7 linked regions of the Homo sapiens genome follow. The protein of the gene in region 1 interacts with the protein of each later gene in a pairwise test. Each region holds a gene or a part of one and is shown in the gene's direction. Other genes may lie near its edges. The genes, in order: RBFOX1, GCA, CELF3, RBM24, ALG13, KIFAP3 and SIRPB1.

Evidence for each region.
Region 2: the proteins of RBFOX1 (region 1) and GCA interact in a two-hybrid assay, tested with the Homo sapiens proteins (one large-scale study listed by BioGRID and IntAct).
Region 3: the proteins of RBFOX1 (region 1) and CELF3 interact in a two-hybrid assay, tested with the Homo sapiens proteins (one large-scale study listed by BioGRID).
Region 4: the proteins of RBFOX1 (region 1) and RBM24 interact in a two-hybrid assay, tested with the Homo sapiens proteins (one large-scale study listed by BioGRID and IntAct).
Region 5: the proteins of RBFOX1 (region 1) and ALG13 interact in a two-hybrid assay, tested with the Homo sapiens proteins (one large-scale study listed by BioGRID).
Region 6: the proteins of RBFOX1 (region 1) and KIFAP3 interact in a two-hybrid assay, tested with the Homo sapiens proteins (one large-scale study listed by BioGRID and IntAct).
Region 7: the proteins of RBFOX1 (region 1) and SIRPB1 interact in a two-hybrid assay, tested with the Homo sapiens proteins (one large-scale study listed by BioGRID).

What each region holds. Positions count from the first base shown.
Region 1 is NC_000016.10:7,579,524-7,583,023, forward strand, and holds part of RBFOX1 (RNA binding protein fox-1 homolog 1), read left to right. Parts: intron 1-253; coding exon 254-397; intron 398-3,500. UniProt on the Homo sapiens protein: RNA-binding protein that regulates alternative splicing events by binding to 5'-UGCAUGU-3' elements. Regulates alternative splicing of tissue-specific exons and of differentially spliced exons during erythropoiesis.
Region 2 is NC_000002.12:162,350,632-162,354,131, forward strand, and holds part of GCA (grancalcin), read left to right. Parts: intron 1-1,706; coding exon 1,707-1,776; intron 1,777-2,780; exon of another isoform or gene 2,781-3,102; intron 3,103-3,500. UniProt on the Homo sapiens protein: Calcium-binding protein that may play a role in the adhesion of neutrophils to fibronectin. May play a role in the formation of focal adhesions.
Region 3 is NC_000001.11:151,706,804-151,710,303, reverse strand, and holds part of CELF3 (CUGBP Elav-like family member 3), read left to right. Parts: intron 1-512; coding exon 513-561; intron 562-955; coding exon 956-1,084; intron 1,085-1,226; coding exon 1,227-1,306; intron 1,307-2,368; coding exon 2,369-2,512; intron 2,513-2,655; coding exon 2,656-2,797; intron 2,798-3,009; coding exon 3,010-3,159; intron 3,160-3,500. UniProt on the Homo sapiens protein: RNA-binding protein involved in the regulation of pre-mRNA alternative splicing. Mediates exon inclusion and/or exclusion in pre-mRNA that are subject to tissue-specific and developmentally regulated alternative splicing.
Region 4 is NC_000006.12:17,287,861-17,291,360, forward strand, and holds part of RBM24 (RNA-binding protein 24), read left to right. Parts: intron 1-1,711; exon of another isoform or gene 1,712-2,165; coding exon of another isoform or gene 2,166-2,208; intron 2,209-2,988; coding exon of another isoform or gene 2,989-3,033; intron 3,034-3,500. UniProt on the Homo sapiens protein: Multifunctional RNA-binding protein involved in the regulation of pre-mRNA splicing, mRNA stability and mRNA translation important for cell fate decision and differentiation. Plays a major role in pre-mRNA alternative splicing regulation.
Region 5 is NC_000023.11:111,757,660-111,761,149, forward strand, and holds the end of ALG13 (UDP-N-acetylglucosamine transferase subunit ALG13), read left to right. Parts: coding exon 1-103; intron 104-2,074; coding exon 2,075-2,340; 3' UTR 2,341-2,990; downstream 2,991-3,490. UniProt on the Homo sapiens protein: Catalytic subunit of the UDP-N-acetylglucosamine transferase complex that operates in the biosynthetic pathway of dolichol-linked oligosaccharides, the glycan precursors employed in protein asparagine (N)-glycosylation.
Region 6 is NC_000001.11:170,068,196-170,071,695, reverse strand, and holds part of KIFAP3 (kinesin-associated protein 3), read left to right. Parts: intron 1-2,778; exon of another isoform or gene 2,779-3,500. UniProt on the Homo sapiens protein: Involved in tethering the chromosomes to the spindle pole and in chromosome movement. Binds to the tail domain of the KIF3A/KIF3B heterodimer to form a heterotrimeric KIF3 complex and may regulate the membrane binding of this complex.
Region 7 is NC_000020.11:1,617,210-1,621,387, reverse strand, and holds the start of SIRPB1 (signal-regulatory protein beta-1 isoform 1 precursor), read left to right. Parts: upstream 1-1,378; 5' UTR 1,379-1,443; coding exon 1,444-1,519; intron 1,520-4,178. UniProt on the Homo sapiens protein: Immunoglobulin-like cell surface receptor involved in the negative regulation of receptor tyrosine kinase-coupled signaling processes.

The sequences.
Region 1 (3,500 bases):
GAATGATGCTCCCTGAGGGCAGGGATTTTTGTCTGCTTTTCCCACTGCCTAATCCCAGATTCATAATGAGCACCCAGTGGACGCTCAGAAAACACTTGCTGAATGAATGCATGCATGCATGCGTCAGCATTTTCTTCCCTTCTCAGATTGCTTAGTTCTGATCTTTTCCTGCCACTCATGGCAAGCAAAAGAGCATCGGAAGAGAGCACTGTGGTCCACTGAGAACCTCTTCGGTTTCTTCTTGTTCTTTTAGCAGACAGATGACGCAGCACCGACGGATGGCCAGCCCCAGACACAACCTTCTGAAAACACGGAAAACAAGTCTCAGCCCAAGCGGCTGCATGTCTCCAATATCCCCTTCAGGTTCCGGGATCCGGACCTCAGACAAATGTTTGGTGTAAGTATCACCTTTCTTCCCAGCAGTGCCCGCTCTGGGGGTTCCAGAGACCTCCCTGTCTCATGTAAGTTTGGGGTATTTACAATACTAAGGTTAGATGTTTGTATGGGGAGAAACAATTTAGAGCCTAGTCTGCAGGTATATTGTGGCTAGAATCTCTTTATGGTTTTAGCATGTATTTCTGTACATATGCTCACCATGTATCTACTTTACCAAGTGGCTTTCTTCTAAGAAGTAACTTGTAGGCCAAATGGAACACAAATTCCTAGATGACCCACTGTTGAAGGAAGCCTATTGATGGTCCTAAATCCAATGGCCCAGGACATCATACTGCAGCAAAAATACACATCGAGTCCTCTTGGTTTTGCTTTCTTTTACAGTTGTCAAATGATCCAGAGGGTGACTCTTAGTGTATCCCTGCATTGCCTAGTCTTTCCCAGGCACTGTGCATTTAGATTTCAGATGCATCAGCAGAGAACAACTACTTCTGCATAAAGCTGATTTTAGCAAACAAAACAAAACCACCACCACCGACACCAAATGAGCTACCAGTTTCTAAGTCCATGTTGATTCCTGAAGTCTACGTTCTTCTGAAATCAGTGAAAAGGATTCAGAGGTACTTACTGTGGTGCTATATGCCATGAAGTGTAGCCTTGCCCAGGCACCATGGTGAAACACAGAGCAGGCCACAAGTCACCACTGACCCAGGAGAAAATAATAGCATTGCTTTTTTTATAGGTCATCTTGCCCCTGATTATTTTTTTCTCGAAGATATCTTCACTATCCACTTTGGGAAGACATGAGTTTGCCATTTCTTTGACCAGTGTTCCACCAAAGGACAAAGCTGTGACAGGGCTTGGATATCATTCATGTTTGCAGATGTAGCCAATTTGCCCATGACATCCCAGCAATGATAGCAGGTGCCTCTGGATTCAATGAAAAGAACTACATCCTTAACATTTGACTTAGAGCAATGGTGGGCTTCTCAGAGACTCTTCCTCTAAGAGTTAATAAATGGATGCAAATATCACAAAAGGAACAAGAAGATGCCCAACTTGAATGCCTCATTCCTAGCCAAGTTGGTGGTGTCTCCATATAAAATGGGAGGCTCTTGTTCACTACTCAAAGGCACTGTGTGTTGGGGATTAGCTTGCACCTTTTACTTCTTATACACACGTGATGCTTATCAAGTATGCATCTGACACAAAAGCAGAGCGAGCATCCTAATATTGAAGATACCCAGCTTTGAATGCTGACATTTCAGAGGAAAAGGTCAGCTCTTGCACTTTTATCTCTCTCATTTGGTAATAACCTTGAGTTGAGCCTTCCAACTCCTGCAGAACAGAGATACCCTCGGGCACTTTCAGGTCAAAGATGACTTTGAAAAGTGCAGAGCATTCAAAGTGAGAGTCGAGGTTAAGTGTGTGTGAGGCAGTAAGACCAGGTGTGAATGATGGGCGGTAAGAGGAGTTATATTCTCTTTGCCGTGTCAGGTTAGGAAGACATCTTGCTATGCAGTCTATTTTTTTCTCATCAAGTGTCACTGTGATGTTGGCTTTCAATGTGATCCCCTTAATGACCGTCCTGACACTCTTTCATGGTGTCACTCAGTTATCGTGAAAGTTACTGCAGGCTACAATGCTAAGTCATAGAGGTATTCAAAATATTCACAGGAATCAGAGAAGGGATCCTGAGTCTCTCTAGTCTTACAGAGGTAGGGTAGACGGCAAGGAGCAAGATCTTGCCAAAAAATTGTACTACCGGTCATCAGACCTTGATCCAAATCTACTAGTTTCAGGGCTCTTGTTTTTAAAAAGACAAGTTCTCACTCTGCTACCCAGGCTAGAGTGCAGTGGTGTGATCACGGCTCACTGCAAATTCTTGGGCTCAAGGGATCCTCCCACCTCAGCCTCCCAAGTAGCTGGGACTACAGGCACAAGCCACCATGCTTGGCTAATTTTTAAGTATTTTTTTTTAATAGAGATGGGGTCTCAATTTGTTGTCCAGGCTGCTCACAAATTCCTGGCCTCAAGCAACCCTCCCGCCTTGGCCTCCCAATGTGCTGGGATTACAGCATAAGATGTGAGCTATTGCACCCATCCAGCACCCCCCCCCCCCCTTTTTTTTGTGACAAAGTCTTAGTCTGTCACCCAGACTGCAGTGAAGTGGCATGATCTCGGCTCATTGCAACCTTTCTCCTGGGTTCAAGCGATTCTTGTGCCTCAGCTTCCTGACTAGCTGGGACTACATGCATTCACCACTTCACTTTAAAGTCAAGATTTTCAAGCAACTGACAAGATGTCAATTTGGCAAGATGATAGATACACTTAATACCTGTCAATTAAGAGAACACACCATGCATTTAGTGCACAAACTCAACCTTGTTCATCACAAATAGCATCTGTGTCCCTTTTTTTAAAAGTATGCAAGATTTATTTGTTTCTGTAAATTTTGTCTATAAAAGTGCCAGGAACATACAGATTCATAGACCCCCTTGCAATGACTTTCAAGCCTCCTTAGTTTACAACCACTATTCTAAAGAAATGCAGTTTTATGCACTAAAAATCTGTTCTTTCCTGCCAAACACCGGTGGTCATGGAGCCGTTCTTGTTATAGGATACATTTAGTGGCAGGAATCACATTGTGAAGCATCTGTAAACATTCTCATTGGCTCCCTGCACTGGAGCTTAGGGAATTTAGGAGGGTTTCCTCTTTTGGGTCATAGTTACTGCAAGAAACTACAGTTTAACTCCAATTCGGTACTTCTCACGTTATTTGGACATGAGACATCTTCTTTCCTTTTGGTGCTCTATCCTGTCTTTGTCTTCCCACTTTGACAGGGGTTTACAGTGAGGACAATTACAGAGAAAAACAGTCACAAAGATCTTTGTGCTTTTCCCCCCCTTTGTCTCTTGTTAAATATAGGCATGGGATTTCAAAGTCAAAAGCAAAACAAGACAAAAAAGCAACCTCCTTCTTCAAACTGCCTAAAACTTGGCAGTGATCATTACAACGTCTGTAACCACTAATAATTCGACCATACCATCTGCAACCGTTACATGCCTAATGGTTACTGCAGATGACTCATTTTATTTCTAATTTG
Region 2 (3,500 bases), on another chromosome or scaffold:
TGGACATATATTTGGAAACTCTTTTTGACTGCTGAACTATTTCAGCATTTTAATTGTCAGCAATAAATTCGCTATGTTTGAACTATTTGATACTTTCCTTAAATTTCCCAGTCTTGTGCTTTTGAATAAATAAACTCCATAAAGACAGGGTTCTGGTCATATTTTCCCTACTTGACAGGTAGATATTAGGAATATATAAACATTTGATAAATGTTTCGTATGGATGAATTAACTATCCCATTTTCAATTTTTAGTCTAAATATTTAGACTGTATTTTTTCATATATTGAGTTCTACCTAGCTTTGAGGGATCAGGTGCAACATCTGACTTAGGTATACTGCTCCTGGAACCCAACTACTGAACTTACATCTACAGCCATATCCTTTTTTGATGGGCCTCATAATTAATAATGCTCTATGAAAAACACCTGATTAAAGGTTTCTGCAGTGTTCTTATTTATAGGATGAAGTATTCTAAACAGTAAGGATTAAATCATCAATTAATTTGGGGAAATTCTGGTTTCTGTCTTCATACATACAGACACATGCATCACAGTAATACCAACAACTTTAACTTTTGTATGCACACTGCTTCTACTTTTCCACACAGCAACTGTGATGTGGGCATGACACAGCTACCTTTGTATTATAGATAAGTAAGTGGAGACTCAAATTGAGTAACTGAACAAATAGGACTTGAAGTTGGATATCATTTTAAAATCTTGCTGCCTAACGAAGGGCAATTGATTTTTGTTAATTCTCTACCTGATGCTCTTGTAATTTAATTAGGACATTCAGCTTTCTACCGCTAATGCTACCTAATTCAGTTAAGGGAAGAATGCTGCTTAGTATTTTGTAATTTCTATTAGAACAGCTGCAGTTTTGTAAGGGGTTCTTTTGCCAAAAATCCATTAGAATGTGAGTGTTAATAATATTTCTTAGAAGTAGTTTAGAAAAGTTTTTTGTTTTGTTGTTTCTTGGATCTCTTATGAAGAGTAGGTTTTAAATTTGCCTCCTTGATCCTTCATCATAGCTACATTTTGCATTTGTGCCAATGTTTGTGATGGTTCCAAAGGAATTACTTATTTTTGTCAAAAACAGGATGAGGTACTAAATCATAATGAGAATACTCAACCTATTTCATTTCCATTGTGATTTCTTGTTTGCATTTTAAAACTTTATTTTCTGTAGTAAGTTCAGGCAAGACTTGTTTGGGCAGTAATCAGAAGAATAGCAGCAAGATACAGGGGGACTCTAGAATTTTGCTAGGGGTAATGGTGGGGGAAAATATATTTTCCCCTTCCAGTTAAAGCTTCAGTATTATTTATAAATAATCTCCTCCCAAAACAGCATGAGTGGGGATGTTTTCGAGACTTTTCTGAACACATTTTAGGCATTTTTCTAACTGTTTAACTGTTTTTCTAACTGTTTAAAATAGAAGTACAATGACTCTTATGAGATTGTCTTGAACCATTATAGAACAGGGTAATTGTGCTATTCTTCAGAAGTGGAAGAAATTATTTCTGTGGTATGATATTTTGTAATATGCCTTTGTTGTCAGTAATTATCTCTAGAATTTTGTAGTTAATTATAGAGTAATGTTTCAAAGAATGCATATGTCTTGATTGGCCTAGAACAGTCAATTGACATTTTAATATGCTTTTATACAACTGCACATTAAATTAGGTCATAATTATTTTTAAACAGGATGGTGAAGTGGATGCTGAAGAACTTCAGAGATGTTTGACACAGTCTGGAATTAATGGAACTTACTCTCGTGAGATCTTTTTTCCCCTTTTGTTGAAATTATAATAGGAAGTTTATTTTCTTACTTTTTTTGTCCCTGTAATTAAAATGTTTAAAAAATTATCACAGTTATACATGCACATAGTTTAAGGAGTCAAATAACTGTAAAACTCGTTATGAAAATAACTGTTCATTGTGTATTCCTGTCTCCTTAACATTAACTGCTCATAGAGGACACTTCTTTTGACTTTTAAAAATCTGATTCTTTTGAAATTTGCTTCCAGATTTCAAGATAGAATATTTTTTTCACGATTGATTTTTGGATTTTATGATTATCTATTGATATCCTGCTATGAAAGATGAGGATTTCACTTTATTTTAACCTTAAACTCTCCCCTGTCTCTGCACTCCACAGAGGAACATTTCCCATCCTCCTGTCCTTCCAATGTAGTTATAATATATAGTAACTTTTGTTAGGTATGTTAGTCTTTACCTTATTTTTACTATCTGAATGCTGCTTATAGCTGTATCTTATGATAATGTATGATTACTTTTCCTTTTTATATAATGTTTTGCTTTTCTTGAAATCACTAGTTGTCAGGTATTATCCTAGAACTCTGGGATATGCAGTTTTTTATGTGTAGCTGTCATACTGGGATTCTTTCACCATCATTCTGAAGCTGGTTTCCCCGTTTCTCTTGAGTTAGATCTCCTTTTTACTCCATCTCTTGTTGTCCTCTTTTAAAAAATTCATTATCTTATTTTAGTGAAATGTATAGTTAAGCAGCTTCTTAATATAAAAAAAAAATACGGCCAGGCGCCGTGGCTCATGCCTGCAATCCCAGCACTTTGGGAGGCTGAGGTGGGCGAATCATGAGGTTAAGAGATCGAGAGCACCCTGGCCACCATGGTGAAACCCCGTCTCTACTAAAAATACAAAAATTAACTGGGCGTGGTGGCACGCACCTGTAGTCCCAGCTACTCGGGAGACTGAGGCAGGAGAATTACTTGAACCCAGGAGGCAGAGGTTCCAGTGAGCTGAGATTGGGCCACTGCACTCCAGCCTGGTGACAGAGTGAGACATCATCTCAAAAACAAACAAAAGAATATATGGGAGATAAATTTTTGAGAGCTTATGTATCTAAAAATGCTTTCATTCTACCTTCAGAATTGATTGGCCAGGTATAGAATTCTAGGTTACAAATGATTCTCAAGTAGAATTTTAAAGGTATTGCTCCATTGTTTCTAGCGTCCCTTGTTGCATTATCTTTCTCTTTCCTGCCTGGATGTGATGTGATTTGTTATTCCTCTCTGGAAACTTGTGAGATCTTTGTCTTTAGTATTCTGCGATTTGATGGTAAAGTACCTAGTTGTGTTGTGTGGGGAACTCAGATGGTATTCTCAGCCTGGAAACTCCTTTGCTTTAGATGTAGGACGTTTTCTTCAATGATATTTTCTGTTTCTTGGAATGCTTTTTGTTTTCACTGGGTTTTCTACTTTTATCATCTTTTTCCTCCTATCATTTTTTTTTGCTGAACTTTTTGGGAATTTTCCTCAACTTTATTTCCTAAACCTTCTATTGAGTCTTTCATTTCTGCTTTTCATTAATATCCAAGAGCTTCTGTTCTATTTTCATGAATGTGATATTGTCCCTTATCTCTCTGAGACTATTAATATATTTTTAAAGTTTTTTCTTCCTATATAACCTTTGTTTTTTCCAGATTGTTTTTTCTCCTCATTTTGCTTGTTTTGGTT
Region 3 (3,500 bases), on another chromosome or scaffold:
CCCCTGGGGTCAAGGGGTATAGGGGGGCAGAAAGAGAGGCAGACACACCTCTAGAGGTCAGAAGGAAGTCTGGGCCTTTGTGGGGTCTCCCTCAGTCTAGAGTCCTCCTTGGGGCTTCTTCAGAGTGGCCTCTGTTGCGCCCACTTTGTAGAATTGAGGCAATTCTTATTAAATAACTCCTTGGTCGGGCTCTCTCTCAGGCCCCGGGTCCTATGTGCAGGCCCCCTTCTCCCACTCAGGACAGCAGCACCCATCCCTGGCCAAGTCATCAGGAGCCCAACCTGAGCCTGGAGCTGTGCCCATGAGCCTCTCCCTCTACATCCTCTCTCTCTGTGCCTCTGATCCCCTCAGGCCTTCATCCTGAACAGTATTAGGCCCTGTCCCTTCCTTCCCATCAGAAACTTAGAGGGCCTGGGGCTTGCCCCTCTAGTCTCTCTGCAGGGCCTGGCCTGGGAGGGCTCTTGGGTGTTCAGAGGAGGTCCCCAGCAGCTGCCTTCTCTTCTCTCCTTCAGATGAACAGGCCGATCCAGGTCAAGCCAGCCGACAGCGAGAGCCGAGGAGGTAGGTTCTGTGCCTTTGGACTCTGTCCCTCTCCTCCCACCCCCAGGCCCAGGGCCTGGAGTTGTCGAGGGGTAGCCTTTCTTGAGGGAGAAAGCCTGATGATTCTGAAGAGTTCCCAGCTGCGGTGAGATAGGAGTCAGTGTGGCCAGAGCGGGTGAGATCTGGGGCGGGTACAGATGGCAAAACTGAGGCCCAGGGTGGAGTGCGAGTCCCTCAGAGCTGGGATGAGCACCCTCTGCAACTATACCCCATTCCCCAACCATCAGCCCCTACAGCCATTGGACCCTAAGGGTAGCAGAAGTAGTGTTAGGAGCTCCAGGGAAGGGCGGAAGAAGGGCTGGGAAGGCAGCCAGGAGGCCCTGAACATGCCCTCCTCCTGTGCCCTACCACCCAGAAGACCGGAAGCTCTTTGTGGGGATGCTAGGGAAGCAGCAGACAGATGAGGACGTCCGGAAGATGTTTGAGCCCTTCGGGACCATCGACGAGTGCACTGTGCTCCGGGGGCCAGATGGCACCAGCAAAGGTAGTCCACCCACTTCCCCCTTCCCCACCGGGCCCTTCCCCTTCCTGTTCCACCCCCAAGACTCCCTAGGCATCGGGTTCCACCGCGGGGTCCCGCAGGGATGGGTGCTTACCCCTCTCCTCCTCCATCTCAACCTCTCCAGGCTGCGCCTTCGTGAAGTTCCAGACCCACGCTGAGGCCCAGGCGGCCATCAACACCCTTCACAGCAGCCGGACCCTGCCAGTGAGCCCCACTCCCCTGCCCCCGGGCCTCTCCTTCCCACCCTGCCCACCTGCCAGGCCCTGGCCCAGAGAAGCAGTCCACTCAGGATGGGCTATTTGAATTTATTGGAAAGGAATGTCCTGGCAGAAGAACCAAACTGCTTAGGGACACCCTCACATTTCAAATGGCACTTCCCCACCTCCCCACTCCTCCCCTATTCCCCATCCACCTTCAGCCAAATTCCCTCACATCCCTCTCCTTCTCCCTCCATTCCCCAGCCCTCCCTTCACCCCCGTCTCTTCTCCAGCCTTCCCATATCCCCCTACCCTCATTTGCTGGGGCGCCAGGACACTTGCTTAGAGGCCCCACGTGCACCCCTCTTCCCTGCCCCTGCACAGCAGCGTTAGGTCAGTGACCAGTCTAGAGCCCACCTCTAAATTGGAACTGGCTGACTCAGAAGGCTGTGCACTTCCCATAACTCACAGCTCTCCAGCAAAGGCTGGGCAGACATTTCACGGGGCCTTGGTGGAGGGGACACAGCATTGGGTAGAGAACTGTGTCCAATGACCCTATGCCCCTTCCAGCTTTGAGATTCTAGGATTCTACCATCATCCTTGCAAATGCTCCAATTTGGTTTTTATTCAGCTCAGACTAGTATTAAGATTTGAGGCACACCATGAGGACTGGGGTGTGGGGGCAGGAGTCGTGGTAAGGCACGCAGGGCAGCTACAAGGGAAGACTAGCCTGAGATTAAACATTTGCTGTGGCAACCCAGGGTGGGGATGATTTCCAGTTCAGAGTCCTCACAGAGTAGCCAATGATGCCCTTTTCATTCCAGTAGGCTTTTCACTTTCCAAGCATGTGCCTTCACATTCCTCATTTTTTCTTCTAGCCTCTTGCACATCCTAGCATAGGGAGAGAGTGGGATTAATATCTCCCCATCTTTCATACGCAAAATGGTGGCCGCCCTCTCAGAGAGGCCAAGCCATGCCATGGGGGTGGAATGGAGACCAGGTCCTGAGGGCTTTGGGGAGGAGAGACCCTGACCCTGCACCTCTGACCTGTGTGTGGGCCCGTGCCCAGGGTGCCTCGTCCAGCCTGGTGGTGAAGTTTGCTGACACTGAGAAGGAGCGAGGTCTCCGCCGCATGCAGCAGGTGGCCACCCAGTTGGGCATGTTCAGCCCCATCGCCCTCCAGTTTGGAGCCTACAGCGCCTACACCCAGGCCGTGAGCACTGCCCCTGATGCCGGGCCAGCCCTCCTGACCCCCTGTATCTTGCCCCCACCCTCCCGATGCCAAGGCCCCGGGCTGGGAGGGAGCCAGGCTTGGGCACAGGGGGCCTGCCCCACTCTCCTCTCCCCTCCCCCCAGCTGATGCAGCAGCAGGCGGCCCTGGTAGCGGCTCACAGTGCCTACCTCAGCCCCATGGCCACCATGGCTGCCGTGCAGATGCAGCACATGGCTGCCATCAATGCCAATGGCCTCATCGCCACCCCCATCACCCCATCCTCAGGTATGGCCTGGGCAAGGCCGGGCAAGGGAGCTAAGCATGGTAGGGGTAGGGAGGGGCACAGGGCATTGCTCAGGGAAGCCTCGGGGTCTGGGAGGGACTCAGGGGTCAGAGAGGCCTGCTTCCTCCCCTCTGCCCACAGACTTGCTGACTGGTTCTCTGCCTGTGTGTGTGTCTGCTCCTCTGCTCTCTCCCTGTCGCTTTCTCCTCCCCAGGAACCAGCACCCCTCCTGCCATCGCTGCCACGCCTGTCTCTGCCATTCCGGCTGCCCTGGGCGTCAACGGCTACAGCCCGGTGCCCACCCAGCCCACTGGGCAGCCTGCCCCTGATGCTCTGTATCCCAACGGGGTTCACCCCTACCCAGGTGGGACTCTCTGCCTGCCCACTCCGTCCCAGCAACCATCTAAACCACCACTCCCATTAGGGAGGCAGGACACACCTTCCCTCCCAGCTTTGGGGGTACAGGTGCTTCCTCCTGCCCTGCCATCCTGGGCGGGGATGATCCTTCCTGTTGGGCTCGGCCAGGAAGCTGAGGTGTAGAGCAGTGAAGCGACCTGTCCAGGGTTGCAAGACAGTCAGACCCAAGTCTTCCTAACGCTGGGCTCTTTCCCCTCTTCCCACTGCTTTGTGCATTTCTGCCTTCTCACTTCACACCCCATGCCCAGAGAAGCTCTGCTCCCCACCTGCCTGGCCTCGGCCCAGAGG
Region 4 (3,500 bases), on another chromosome or scaffold:
ATACACTTAAACATTGACTCAGTACCCCTTTAAGTGCTCAGTTTTATGCTGGGTGTGGTAACACTGTGCTTAGTTTTTATAGTGTCCACTAAGGAGGGCAGGAGGGACTGTAACTAACACTAACCAAACATCTGCCATATGGATTGTAATGATAAGGGATTTACATAAATTACATAATTTAATTCTCACAGTAAGTGTTTGTTGAAGGCATTGTTAATATCTTTTCCAAAACTAAGACACAGAGAGGTTAATTAACTTCCCCCTGATCACAGGACTGCTAAGTGTTAGAGGCTGAGTCTAGATTCAGAATCATGGTCTGCCTGACCTCAGAAGCTGCAGTCTTTCCTCTTTGTCAAGCTGTAGCCCCAAAAGACAAAACTCTATTCTCTCATAATCCAGTAAGAAAGCCGATAAGCACCAAGAAGGGCTGTCCATGTGGCTTCAGATAAGAGAGACGAACATCAGGACAATGAGTGGGATTCAGAAGTCTTCGTGAAGGAAGTAGAAGTTGACCTAGGTTTTAAAGAATGGTGGAGGGTAGGGAACTCTTTTATTGAGTGCCTACTATATTTGGCATTGTAGACTCTCTCCACAGATAATTTTATTTAATGCACAGCAATCCAGGGTTGTGAGATTATTAGTCCATTTCACATATGCAAAATAGGAGGCTATGTTAAGACAACAAAGCATAAAAAAAGAAACATATGAGACTAAACGATAAAGCAAATTTCTGAAACCTCTACACGTAGTGAGTGCTAGAGCTAGGGTGAGTGGGATTTGGATTTCAGCAGGTAGAGACAGTGTGAGGATTAGCATCTGGGTGAGGGATGAATGACATGAATAAAGGGCAAGAATCTGGGAATGTGAAGCTTGTCCAGGAAACATAAAGGAGCCCAGTTGACCTGGGTTTGAGGAAAGGTGGAAGGAAATACTAGAAAGGTGTTTTGGAGCCAGGGGCAGTCTGGATGTTTTGGCCTAGAATGCCAAGGCTTAAGAAATTTGCACTGAGTTTGGTTTTTTAGGGGCCAAGGATTACTTTGAGCAAATGAATGAGATGGAGTATTTGTCATCAGTTGCTGTGAGATAGATTGGAAAAAGAAACCGATTAGGATATTGCTTCAAAACCAGTTAGGATGTTGCTTTAAAAGTCACATAGAGATGTCAGTGGAACCTGAAGAGATGGGAAGAAAAGGAAAATGTAGTAAATTTTCTTTGAAAATTACCAAAAGTGTCTTCTTTGCACTTGTGCTTTTTGTAACTGCTAGGCATGCACGTTTTATGGTTAAGGAAACGACATTGGTAAATGTCTAATAGGAGGGAGATTCCCAGATCACCTTAATGGGTCTCAGACTATTAAAAAGAACTCCTAATTCAGGATTTCATTCCAAAGTGCCACTTGAACCTTCAGTCCAATTCTGCCTTCCTTCCTGACCCAGGATATTTTAGGCTCTCCAAGGTCTTTCGGGTTCTCCTTTTCCCTCTAAGCCTTAAAATGTTCTAGGTTTTCATTTGCCTTCCAGACGTCTCTTTAACCTTTGCCAAACTTCATGTAGGAGTCTGATAATCCAGTGAACTTTCTTTATATTCTCATTGTTTGACATTGTGAAATCAAAACTATTTCCTAATGCAAAGTAAATGCAGAGCTAAAGCCCCCTAAGCAACCTTGCCTGTCTTTTAATGCATTCTTCACAACACTTTCTCCTTTTTGTAGGATAAACATTTTCACTTAACACCTTAATTCAGAGATACCAACCTAGCACCCACAGTGTTGTTCTTGGAACTTTGAGAGTACAAGGGGTTAAGGTTTCGGTGTCAGTGAGATCCGCACTGGCTGGCCTTTGCAGCTGATAGATGTTTTACTTTGGCCTTATAAAGACATTTTACCCGCTGGAAACCCTTGTCGCATGACAGGATCAAAAATAGCCCGGCTGCAGCCCCTGCTGTCCATCACCACATGTAAACTGGCATAAGAGTAGGCTCTCTTAGCCGTGTCTACACGTTGTAGACACGGCAGCCTCCAGGGACAGTGTTTCATAAAGCCACACCTGTTGTTGCGAGTGAGCCAGTCACCTGACCTGCAGCAAAGTTCTGAGTGTGTGCATGACCACGCGCCTGGTTTCTGACAAGCAGTTAAGAACATCTCTGAGTGTCCTCAGAAACACTTGATGACGTCGTTTCTCCTGGCACTGGGAAACATCTACAAGTCTGGTAAAATTGAGTGTATTTTTATCATTGGGGCCAAAGTCCACTACCCTCTGAGATAAATTCATCTTTTCCATGGATGTTCGTTAATGAGTGCTTTCAGTAAAACTCTGAAAAGGCAAAGCAAAATCTATGTTTCTGAAAAATCTACAAGTGCTGTTTTCTGTTTTGAGTTCTTTGAAATTGAAAGGTTGTTACTTGTCCTTGTACTTCTTACAAGTTGGCTTTGCCAGCAACCACGTAGTATTATAGTGTCATGTTTTTAGATATAAATATAGGGGGCTTTAATGGAGATTATTTTAAAGAAGAAGATAAATCAGATATTTATGGTAGTGTTTCAGATGGGCAGTAATAAATTGCAAGAGTGAGAATGGAGATGCATGGAATTTTTGTTTAAATACCTCTTGTGATTTATTTTTTTAACCACATTAACTTTTAAGTAACGTCATTGGAGTCTGTCTTGTATTATCTGTGAATGTATAATTTTAAAAGATACTTGGTTTTGTTTGACTTTCTTGAACTTTTGCAGGATAACACATGATTATACAATTGATATGATTTGTACAAAATATCAACGAATAGGGCAGATTTCGAACATAACACTAACGTATTTCTGCTAATTTGGAGGATGAAACAAGAGTTAGTAGATGTGCAAAAAAAGTTTCCTTGTTATGTAAACCTTTTAAATTTCTATTAATTTTAGAAATATTTAGTTGTACTTCCCTGTCCTGCCTTTTCCCTCAACCTCATCATTTCCCCAAAACCCCTTCTGTCTGTCTTGCATAGAGATAAACAAGCTGGCTGACCCTCAGGTGCCTGATAGTCAAACAGGTTTGGTTGACCGTTGTGTCCTTATGAATTTTATGGGGGAAAAAAAAGAGAAAGAAAGAAAATAAGTGTGCTGCACATCTCTTTGGGAATCACTGCCATGAATGTTAATAGCATTTTTGTAGCTTCCCACGACAGCCTCTTGTGACAGAGTGAGCTGCACTACAGTTCGTTTGAGAAGTGTGATTCTGCTGTGTTTACCACACTTGTGAACTTTTAAACTCCTTTTTCTTATTTTGTCGCCTGCTTCCTTTTTTAATTATTATTTTTAATAAGGGTGACTGAGGTTGCAGAGAGATTAATGTGTGCTGAGTCTGCATAGCAATTTCAAGTAGGGTTGCCATGATAATAAACATACGGATTTTGTTAACGTTTATGTTAATTTCGACAAACTGGTGATCACCCCACAGAAGTGAATAATTATGGACTACCTTTTGAGTCCTATATTCTTGGCTAAGAATTTTTCTATT
Region 5 (3,490 bases), on another chromosome or scaffold:
TATCCAGTCTATACTGAGCCACCTCTGGTAGATCAAACCGTTCCTCAATGCTACAGTGAGGTGAGGAGAGAAGATGGCATACAGGCGGAAGCATCAGCAAATGGTGAGTGTGTAATGAGATTGCCAGCAAGAAAGACAGTTGGATTTTATTGTGTGTAATTCAATAATAGCTTTCATATATTTCATCAGGTCCATGTACTACACCAGTGATTCTCAAAGCATGATATGTGGACCTCTTGTGGTCCCTAAGACTCTTTCAAGGGATTCATGAGGTCAGAAGTGTTCACAATAATACTAAGAGTTTATTTGCCCCTTTCACTGGCTTGCATTTTCATTGAGGACATAGAAACCAGTGGTGGGTAAAACTGCTGACACCTAAGCACTAGTTGGTACTGACCCCAGACTCTGCTAGTAATCAGTGTTTTTCTCACTGCCACACACCCATGGTACAAAAATGCCAATCTTATGTTTTTTTGTTTAATCAAAGACATTTTTACTAAATTTTTATCCTTGAATAGTTGTATTTTTCTTTGTGACAAAAATGGAACTACTTATAAAACACTTCTGCATACTAAATGAAGTATAATGATTAACTTAAGGAAAAAGACTTGTGCTATTAAGTTATGAGTTGTACTTGCTGACTTGAAAGAGGGATAAGCTATCATTATTCACACTTAGTTGATCTGGCCGGCATTTTCTTAAATGAACAAAGTGAGCCTGTCACTTTAGGATAAATAACTAGTAATATTTGTTGCCAAAGATACAATTTTAGCTTTCAAATAAAAATTAGAATTTTGGAAAACATGTATCTTCCACCATGAGCTTGACACCTTCCCACCAATTAAAACTCCTGTAATAAGATAAGTAGAGCTGAATGTAGTTTCTTAAATTGTATGAGGAAATGTGTCAACATTTGGAAGATCTGCATAACTCAGTGAAGGAAGAGTTTCCCAATTACCAATGCATGATATGACCAAGGTGTGATTTTTGTAACAGATCTTTCCAAGTGCAAGATAAAACAGTGGATTTTAATGTAACAGAGCATGAAAAATCCACATTGCTAGTGACCTTTGAGGAACTACCACTTATGTAGTTTGGGTGTAGCATCAAAGAATATCTACAATTATCTGAAAGGCTAGGTATTAAAATACTTCACTGAGCCAGGTGCGGTGGTTCACGCCTATAATCCCAGCACTTTGGGAGGCTGTGGCAGGTGGATCACCTGAGGTCAGGAGTTCGTACCTGACTTGCCAGGGTTGTTATAAGAACTAATTGGGACCTTATGTATAAGTATACTATTACCTGGTGCATATTAGGAATACTAATTTCTCTCTTCCTTTCCATTTTTAAAGCATATTACAGTGTCAATCTTTTTTTTTTGAATTTTGTGCAGTATACCTTTTATAGAGCTATTTTTAATTGTAGTTAACTATGAGGCAGTGGCAGTCTTAATTTCACAGAGTTAATCTAAGCCCAAGTAATGAATTTTTTTTTTTTTTTTTTGTCTAATGTGTATACTCATTATAGCAAGGTTAAAACAGCATTTATTTCTACTGGAACTGACTCATGGCAAAAGTGCTATGAAATTAAAATGTGATCTTAATGACATTCAGGAGATGACACTTTTAGGGTGTTCTTCAGAGCTATACTTTCAGGTATAGACCAGAATGTCTAGACACCTGAGTTTTTCATTGCTAAATGGTTATTCGGATGATGTATACTGTAAAACTATTGGATAACTCAATTGTGACCACCTCTTACAAGAATTTAATTAACTAGAAGGACTCTAAAGAATATTTATGTATTTAGCTTGCTGATACCTAAATCATCCCAGAAAGATAGCTGTCTGTACATTGAATAGATTTGACACATATATTTCACAGTTTTTTAATTTGGAAATTTTCATATTATCTTTACTCATTATTTGTATTTAAAGTGCTCCTGCTGCAATTGCTGTGATCTTTCTTATAGTTAGTTTTATTTTCACACATAAGAACATCCATTTATGTTGCATGGGGTTCTGTTTTGGTGAATTTTTGTATATAAAGTAGACTGTATACATCCTTTCTTTCAGATACTTTTCCGAATGCTGATTCTTCATCTGTCCCTCATGGAGCAGTCTATTATCCAGTAATGTCAGATCCCTATGGGCAGCCACCTTTGCCAGGTTTTGACTCCTGCCTTCCGGTTGTGCCAGATTATTCCTGTGTTCCCCCCTGGCATCCAGTTGGTACAGCATATGGTGGTTCTTCTCAAATTCATGGTGCTATAAATCCTGGGCCAATTGGCTGTATTGCTCCATCTCCCCCAGCTTCTCATTATGTACCTCAGGGTATGTAAGATCCAGCAGTATGAAGTATTCTTGCACTGCCATTTTCTTGCTGTTTTTGTTTTTAAAAAGTATTTTATGTTAGTGGTTAAATGATTTAGGTGATTAGTGTTTACTATTGTATTTGTCTTTAAAATTATTTTATCTTTTGATTTAAAATAGTACTTTAAAATTAAGGGGTATTATTTTGGGCTGTGACTAAGGAAATTGAGATGGATGTACAACTAGCCCCATATTGAGCATACTTCATTGTATTCAGCTGTTTTCCTGTCAGCCATTTGTCAGCTTTATATTAGCTGATGGTACCAATTGATAAAATGAATATAAAGTATTTCATTGGTTCAAAAATCACACATCATATTAAACCATGCAGAATTGGAGTAACTTCCACTTTTTTCTAGAAAGTAAAACCAAGAGCCTTTGCTTCTGGATAACTCACTTAATATTAAATTAAAGAGCTCTTCACGTTTCTTGAGAATTATCTGAAGCCAGTTGCATTCTGTGATATCAGTTTTGAAGGCACATGGTTCTCTGCTTTAGATTTATCCCATATGCTATTGTTTAATACTGGATGTATGTAAGTGTTTTACTGCACTGTATTGAATTGGTGTCTTTTGCACAGTTAGCAGTAAATAAAAATTAGCATTTAAAATTGCCAAAACGAGTGGGATTTTTTCTTTTTGCATTTTCATGTCAGCAAAGAGTACCGGACATTTGATTGTTTCAACATGTTTTTTCTCTGGCATTTTGGTTGCAAAAGAATGTGAATTTTTAGCATGAACTGGTGGGGAGTAGTTGCAGGGCCACTTGAGATGTTATTTAATCTAGAGTCATTGCAGCACATACTACCATATCTACGCCTTTTCTCCAGAAAATGTTCCTTTTATGTTGTATGTGTGTGTGTGTTTTTTTAAAGCATTTATAACCCTCTTATAGAACTTCAGACTTCTCATTATCCTATACTTTCAATAGTTGTAGGAGCCAAGGGAAAACTCCTTCACCCTCTAAAGGTTCACCAAAAACTCAGCTCACAAAAGGCAGATAAAGAGAAAGGGCGTACAAATTTTATTAATGTGTACATGGGAACCTTCAGAATGGAGACCCAAAAATACAGGGGAAATTGTCCATTTTTTATGCTTAGCTTCAATGAAGTATGGACAG
Region 6 (3,500 bases), on another chromosome or scaffold:
CTTGCTGGAGTGAGTGAATTCTTGCTCTAGTGAGACTGGATTAGCTCTCTTGGGAATGGATTAGTTCCCTCTAGAGTTGGTTGTTATAAAGCCAGGAAGACCCTTGGGTATTCTCTTTTCTCACTTCCCCTTTGATCTTGTCCACTGTGTTATAATGAAGCACAAAAGCCCTCACTGGAAGCCAGAGTCATGCCCTTGAACTTCCCAGCCTGCGGAACTGTAAGCTAAATAAACCCCTTTTCCTTATAAATTACCTAGTCTCAGGTATTGTGTTATAGCAACATAAAATTGACTAATTCAGTATTCCATTTTATGGATATACCACATTTTGTTTGTTTATTGCTCATCTGGTGGTGGACATTTGGGTTGTTTCTACCTATTGGCTATTGGGAATAAAGCTGCTGTGAACATTACTGTACAAGTTTTTGTTTGAACACTTGTTTTGTATCTTTTGGTGTATACCTAGGCCTGGAATTGCCAGACCATATGGTAATTCTATGTTTAATTCATTGAGGAACCACTAAAGTGTTTTCCCTAGTGACTGCACCATTTTACATTCCCACCAGCAATGTATAAGAATTCAGTTTTCCGTATCCTCACTAACACCTGTTATTTTCTGTTCTGTAATTATTACTATACTAGTGGATATCAAATGGTATCTTATTTTGGTATTGATTTGCCTTTCCCTAATTACTAATGACATTGAGCTTTTCATGTGCTTCTTGGCCATTTGTCTTTATTCTTTGGGAAAAGGAGTTCTTTGTAATAGAACCTTGTCAGATACATGATTTACAGATACTTTGTCCCATTCTGTGGGTTTTCTTTGCACTATCTTGGTATGTAAAACTTTCATATGCAAACATTTTTAATTTTGGTGAAGTCTAATTTATTCTTTTGTTGCTCATGCTTTTGGCATCGTTATTTAAGAAACCACTGCTAAATCCAAGGTCATGAAGGTTTGTCCCTCTGTTTTCTTCTAAGAGTTTTACAGTTTTAGCTTTTACATTTAATATCCTTGATCCATCTCGAGTTAGTTATTGTCTATGGTATATGGCAAGGGTCCATCTTCATTCTTTTATATGTGACTATCTAGTTGTTCTGACATCATTTGTCAGAACAAATGTCAGAAAAGAACAATTGACTGTTCTTTTCCTCCATGAATGGTTTGGGCAATTTTTTTGAAAATTAAATGACCAAAAATGTTGGGGTTTATTCCTGCACTCTCAATTATATTTCATTGATCTATCTGTCCGTGTGCTAGTACCTCACTGTTTTGATTACTGAAGCTTTGTAGTGAGTTTTGAAATCCAGAAGTGTGAGTCCTCCAACTTTGTTGTTCTTTTTCAAGGTTGTTTCAGCTATTTAGGGTTCCTTATATTTCCATTTGAATTTTAGGGTTGGCTTTTTCATTTCTGCAAAAAAAGCTATTGAAACTTTGGGAATATAATGAATCTATAGATCACTTTGGGGAATATTGCCATCTTAACAATATTAAGTCCTTCAGTCCATGAACATGTGATTTCTTTTCATTTAGTTCATATTAATTTCTTTCAGCAACTTTTTGTTTTCAGTATACAGTTGTTCCTTGGTTACGTTTACTCCTGAGTATTTTATTCTTTTTGATGCTATTGGAAATGAAGTTTTCTAAATTTCCTTTTCATATTTTTCAGCTCCAATATGTAGAAAAACAGTGGATTTTTTTGGTGTGTTCTGATCTATTCTCCAACTTTGCTGAATTTATTAGCTCTAGCCAGTTTTTTGTGCCATTTTTAGAATTTTCTATATATAAGATTATGTCTTCTGCAGATAGAAATAATTTTACTTCTTCTTTTTCAATCTGGATGCCTTTTTATTTTTTTTTCCCATGCCTCATTGCTCTGGCTAGAATTTCCAGTACTATGTTGAATAGAAGTCAGGAAAGTGGATAAACATTCTTGTCTTGTTCCTGATCTTAGGGGGAAAGCTTTCATTCTTTCACCATTGAGTATGATATTGGCTGTAGATTTTTCATATATGCCCTTTATTATGTTAAGGGACTTTTCTTCTATTCCTAATTTATCAAGTACTTTTATCATGAAAAGATGTTGGGTTTTGTCAGATGCTTTTTTCTGCATCGATTGAGATAATCATGTACTTTTTTTCTTCATTCCATTAATGTGGTGTATTGTATTGAAATGCCCATGTGGCCATGTTGCGTGGTCCTTTTAATATACTCCTGTATTCTGTTTGCTAGTATTTTGAGGATTTTCACATCGACATTCATAAAGGGTATTGGTCTAAAGGTTTTCCTGTAGTGTCTTTGTCTTGCTTTGGTATCAGGGTAATGGTGGCCTCATGGAATGAATTAGGAAGTGTTTCCTCTACTGTTATATCTTTTGGAAGAGTTTGAGGGGTATTTATGTTAATTTGTCTTTAAATGCTTGGTAGAATTCACCAGTGAAGCCATCTGGTACTGGACTTGTTGAAAGGTTTATGATTACTGATTCAATCACCTTACTTCTAATTCTGTTCAGATTTTCTGTGTCTTTTGAGTCAGTTTTGGTAGTTTGTGTGTTTCTAGGAATTATTCTTTTTCATGTAGGTTATCCAATTTGTTGGTGTTCATATTATTCTCTTGTAATTTTTTAATCATCAAAAGAGCAGCAGTAATGTCCCACTTTCATTTCTGATTTTAGTAATTTGAGTCTCTTCTTTTCTTTTTTAGTCAGTCTAACTAAAAGTTTTCCAAAAATGTTTGTTGATCTTTTCAAAGAACTAACCTTTGGTTTCATTTTCTCTATTCTTTTTCTAGTCTCTGTTGCTGCTTTTTATTATTTCCTTCTGCTAGCTTGGGGTTTTGTTTGCTCTTCTTTTTCTAGCCCCTTAAGGTGTAAAATTAGGTTATTAATTCAAAATCTTTTATTTATTTTTTTAAATAGAGCGTCAGTATAGAGTGTCTTATTGTGGATCTGTTTGAGTTTATCTTTGAATTTCATTGAGCTTCTTGGATGTGTAAGTTTGTCTTTGGTCTAATTTGGGAAGTTTTTGACTGTTTTTTCTCCCAGTATTCTCTATGTTTCTTTCTTCCTCTCCTTTCATACCCTCATTATGCATATGTTGGTATACTAGATGGTGTTCCATAAGTCTCTTAGGTTCTGTTTATTTTTCTTCATTCTGTTTTCTTTCTGTGCCTCAAAATGGACAGTTTCATTTGACATATCTTCAAGTTTGCTGATTCTTTTCTCTCTCTGCTCAGATCTGCTGTTAAAAACCCTGTAGTGATTTTTTTATTTCAGTTATTGTACTTTTCAGATCTAGTGTTTTTGTTTGGATCCTTATGATAATATATTTTTAAACTATTTATGTGTTGAGACATTGTGTTTCTCCTTTTTCTTAGTTATTTGCACTGGTTTCTTTTTGCTCTTTGGACATATTTAAGACAGTTGATTTAAAGTCTTTGATAAGTCCAGTGTTTGTGCTGTAGCATGGACAGTTTCTGTTAATTTTTTTTATTGTGAGAA
Region 7 (4,178 bases), on another chromosome or scaffold:
GGAAGCAGTGAACTCACCCTGTACACAAATGTAATTATAGCCACAATTTTTTGGTTATAATTAAATATGAATCAAACCTTCTGTATGGCTTATATTACTCTTACCATATCACTACAAGGTGCATGTTATAACTTCCATTTACATGTAATTAAGTTAAGGCTTAGAGAAGTCAAGTGTCTTGTTGAAAGTCACACAGCTGGAGATTGTAAGAAAAGGAATTCATCTACAGATTGACAAAAAGCAGGGTGAAGAGGATCCAGAGGGAGAAATTGATCTCAGAGTGTCAGAGGTAGACCAAGTACACCATAAAAGCTGGGTTCCAGAAGTCCGGGGAACATGGGAGAAGGCCACTGGTGGGAAACTCAGCATGCAGTAGAAATCCATTTAAAAGCAATATTTGAGTTCCCTCTCTTCACCTGGCACCATGAGTATCAATAATAACCTACTGAATCTCAGGGATGTATAGTCATTATCTCTTTTGATGTTCACTAAAACATGGCAGTGAGACTTATTATCCCAAGGTTAGAAGGCAAAACTGAACCTAGGCAGGCCCAGTAACTTCCCCAACTCCTTAGCACATCTTCTTAGGGTATTTATTCTCCCTCCCTCCTCAGTTCCCATCTGAAGACAGTGATGAATGGAATAGGTGTTCTATGTGCAGAGCAAAGAGTATTGAAATCGATGTGACTGCTCCAGGAATCTGCCCTCCATATTCTCCCCCATAATAAACATATCCCCTTTCCATAACCCATAATCCCCACCTCACCTCACAAAGCAGATCCTTATTACCCTAAGCCCACTTCCTCTCCTGGAAGAAGTCAGGAAATAATTCCTTCTGCTGGGTGCAGGCATATGAAAGTGCTAACGGCCACATGAGACTGAATTTGGGCTAAGTTTTGCCATTTATATTTATAAAAGTTCGGAATAGGGAACCATTTCAAGAGCAGACCTGTTCCTCTCCAACACTGAGCAGGTCCAGTGATCCCTCATCCTGCCCCAACTGAGTAGCACTTGGTTGAGGCTGTTGTAGAATGAGACCACAAGCCAACCACATCCTGAGGTCTTGAGATGGAAAGTTTAGGAAACATTTCATAACCACAGGTCCTTCCTGGCTTAAGAGCACCAAATGGCAAATCACCAAGAAGACATAAAGATGGGGTTAGGAGTCATGGAAGGAGTTAAGACCTCAGGTGGGAAGGAAGCATTATTTCTGCTAAGCCTGTCTGATTCTCCTGAAATGGGGCATGCATAACTGCTTGCATTGTAGCTGCTTGCTGTTCCTGATTTCTGTTTCACAATCCAGAAGCAGGTTACTGCTTCACTCCATCGCAGCCACTTCCTCTTGAACTAAGGGAGGCAGGGCTTGTCTTCTCTCCTCAGAGCAGAGTCTGCGATCTTCCCAGCACAGACGTTTGGACAGAGCAGGCTCCTAAGGTCTCCAGAATGCCCGTGCCAGCCTCCTGGCCCCACCTTCCTAGTCCTTTCCTGCTGATGACGCTACTGCTGGGGAGACTCACAGGTGAGCACTGCCTTCGGTTAAAATCTTTTTTCCTGCCCACTGAGCCATGGCCTGTCCCTGGACTTTCAGGGATTCCGGACAATGACAAGTGCTGCCAAGAAAGGCCAAGGATTAGGCTTTGACTGAGAGCAGAAAATCAGGGAGCTGAGCACTTTCTCTGTGGATCTGCAGCTGGCTACCAGAGGCATTGAACCACAGGACGATTCAACCACCACAACAACAATTACTTACATTTTGATAATATTTCAATTGAAAAAGCAGAGAAGAATCATTATCTAAATCCTCACCAGTCCTGAGGCCCTAGGGCCAAGTGACATGCCCAAGTCCACAGAGTAAGCTCAGAGACACCCTAACAGGGTTATGTGGCTCTAGGCCCAGCCCTCTCTCTTCACCAAACTGAGGATGTGAAGTCTGTAATAGTGCTCACTTGAGTAGGGCAGTGGTGTGGTGTATCCTGGGAGTGTTCAGCCACCATCCTCCCTAAGGGTGCTCCTCACTTTGTCCTCTGTTCCCCCATGCTCCTCCCTCCCCTGTGACCTGATTCTTACCACCCATTTCTCTGTGGCCTCTTCCTCTTTAAGAAGTTCCACATTTGCTGCTTACTGGGTCCTATATTCCTTTCCTAGGGCTTCCATAACAAAGAACTGCAGGCTGGGTGGCTGAAACTACAGATATTTACTTCCTTGCAGTTAAGGAGGCTGAAGTCCAAGATCAAGGTGTCAGCAGGGTTAGTTTCTACTGAAGTCTCTCTCCTTGGCTTATACAGGGCCATTTTCTCTCTGTGTCTTAAACACATGATCTTCCTCTGTGTGTGTCTGTGTCCTCATCTCCTCTTCTTATGAGAATATCAGTCTTGTTGTATTAAGGCCCACCCCAATGACCTCATTTAACTAAATTACTTCTTAAAGACCCTGTCTCCCAAACTGTAACGTTCAGAGGTGCTGGGGATTAGAGCTTCAACACATGCATTTTGTGGGACACATTCAGCCCATAACAGGTACTACAACCTCCTTTGGTTCTCTTAAATTTCCCATGGATAATTTCTTTCCCCTTCCCAAGACAGGCAGGATTGGAGGGCCTTTCCTGGTGCAGCCTGGGAGAACCCTGCTCACAGCTCCCAGACAAGTTACCTGTCCTGATCCCTTCTCAGGCCATGGAGCTGACCCCAGAACCACAGGGCTGGGCACAGCAGCCTCTCAATTCCCCACTGGGCCCTGCTGTGATGTCACCTCACAGGCCCTAGAGGGCAGGGGTCTCACTTTTCAAATTATTTTTCTCACACATACACTGTACCCAAATGACAGCAGTAAGAGTTTAACAATTGAGCTCTTCCTACCATGTAGACACAGTTATTAGCATTTTGCCTGTTTTAGCTCCACTAATCCTCACAACATCCCTGTGTGAAAGCTGCAACTATTATCCCCTATTTCCAAACAAAGACTCAGGCAGAGGGAGGAACTTGTCCATTCATTGTCCCCTACCTCAGTCAGTGGAGCAGCTGAGATTCAAGTCCAGGTCGACCGGCTCCAAAGTTCATTCTTTTAGTCGTGTTATGCTACTAGCAGAAATATTAGAAAATGCAGGGAAGTAAACATAGAATTAATTATTGCCTACCACACTTGTTAGCAACAACCAGAGTTACAACTGTGATGTATGTACTTCTAAATTTGTTATTAATGTGTTGGATGCTTTCTATGGGCCACATATTTTACTTTCTATGGGCCAGATATTTTAATGAGATTTTAACGTGTGTTGTAATTTTATTTAATACACAAAACAAACTTATATACTATCACAATAGGTCACACTTTGATATATATTTGTGAATGTATATGTGTGTGTCTATATATACATATATATGTGTGTGTGTGTATATATACATATATGTGTGTGTATATATATTTGCAAATGTGTGTATACATATGTGTGTATACATATGTATATGCATGTATGCATATAAGTAAGTGTACATGCACACACAGGAGATTTCATTTTTTATCATTGTTTCTCCAAGTTTCTAATTTCAATGAAACTTTTAACAAAATATTTTATTTTTATTTGACAGAACTGTATATACTTATCATGTATACCATATTAATGAAATATGTGTACATTGCAGAATGCCTAATTTGAGCTAATTAACATATGACCTACCTTGTATATGTATCATTTCTGTGGTGAGATCTCTCAAAATCTGCTTTCAACAATTTTTGAGGTTACGAATTGTGTTATGAACTCTAGACCCCATATTGTACAATAGATTTGTGGAACTAATTTCTCCTAACTAAACTGAAATTTTGTATCCTTTGACCAATATCTCTCCAAATGCACCCCCTGCCTAGTGCCTGGTAACCAATATTCTACTATCTACTTCTATGAGTTCAACTTTTTAAAATTCCACATATGAGAGACATTATGCAGTATTGTCTTTCTGTGCCTGGCTTATTTTACTTAGCATAATATCTTCCAGGATCATTTATATTGTTGGAAATGATAGGATTTCCTTCTTTGGTCAGGCTGATTAGAATTCCATTGTGTATACCAATTTCCTTTCTCCATTTATCTGCTGATGGACATCTAGGTTAATTTAATATCCTGGCTATTGTAAATAATGCTGCAATGGACATGGGAGCACAGATATCTCTGTGACATGCTTATG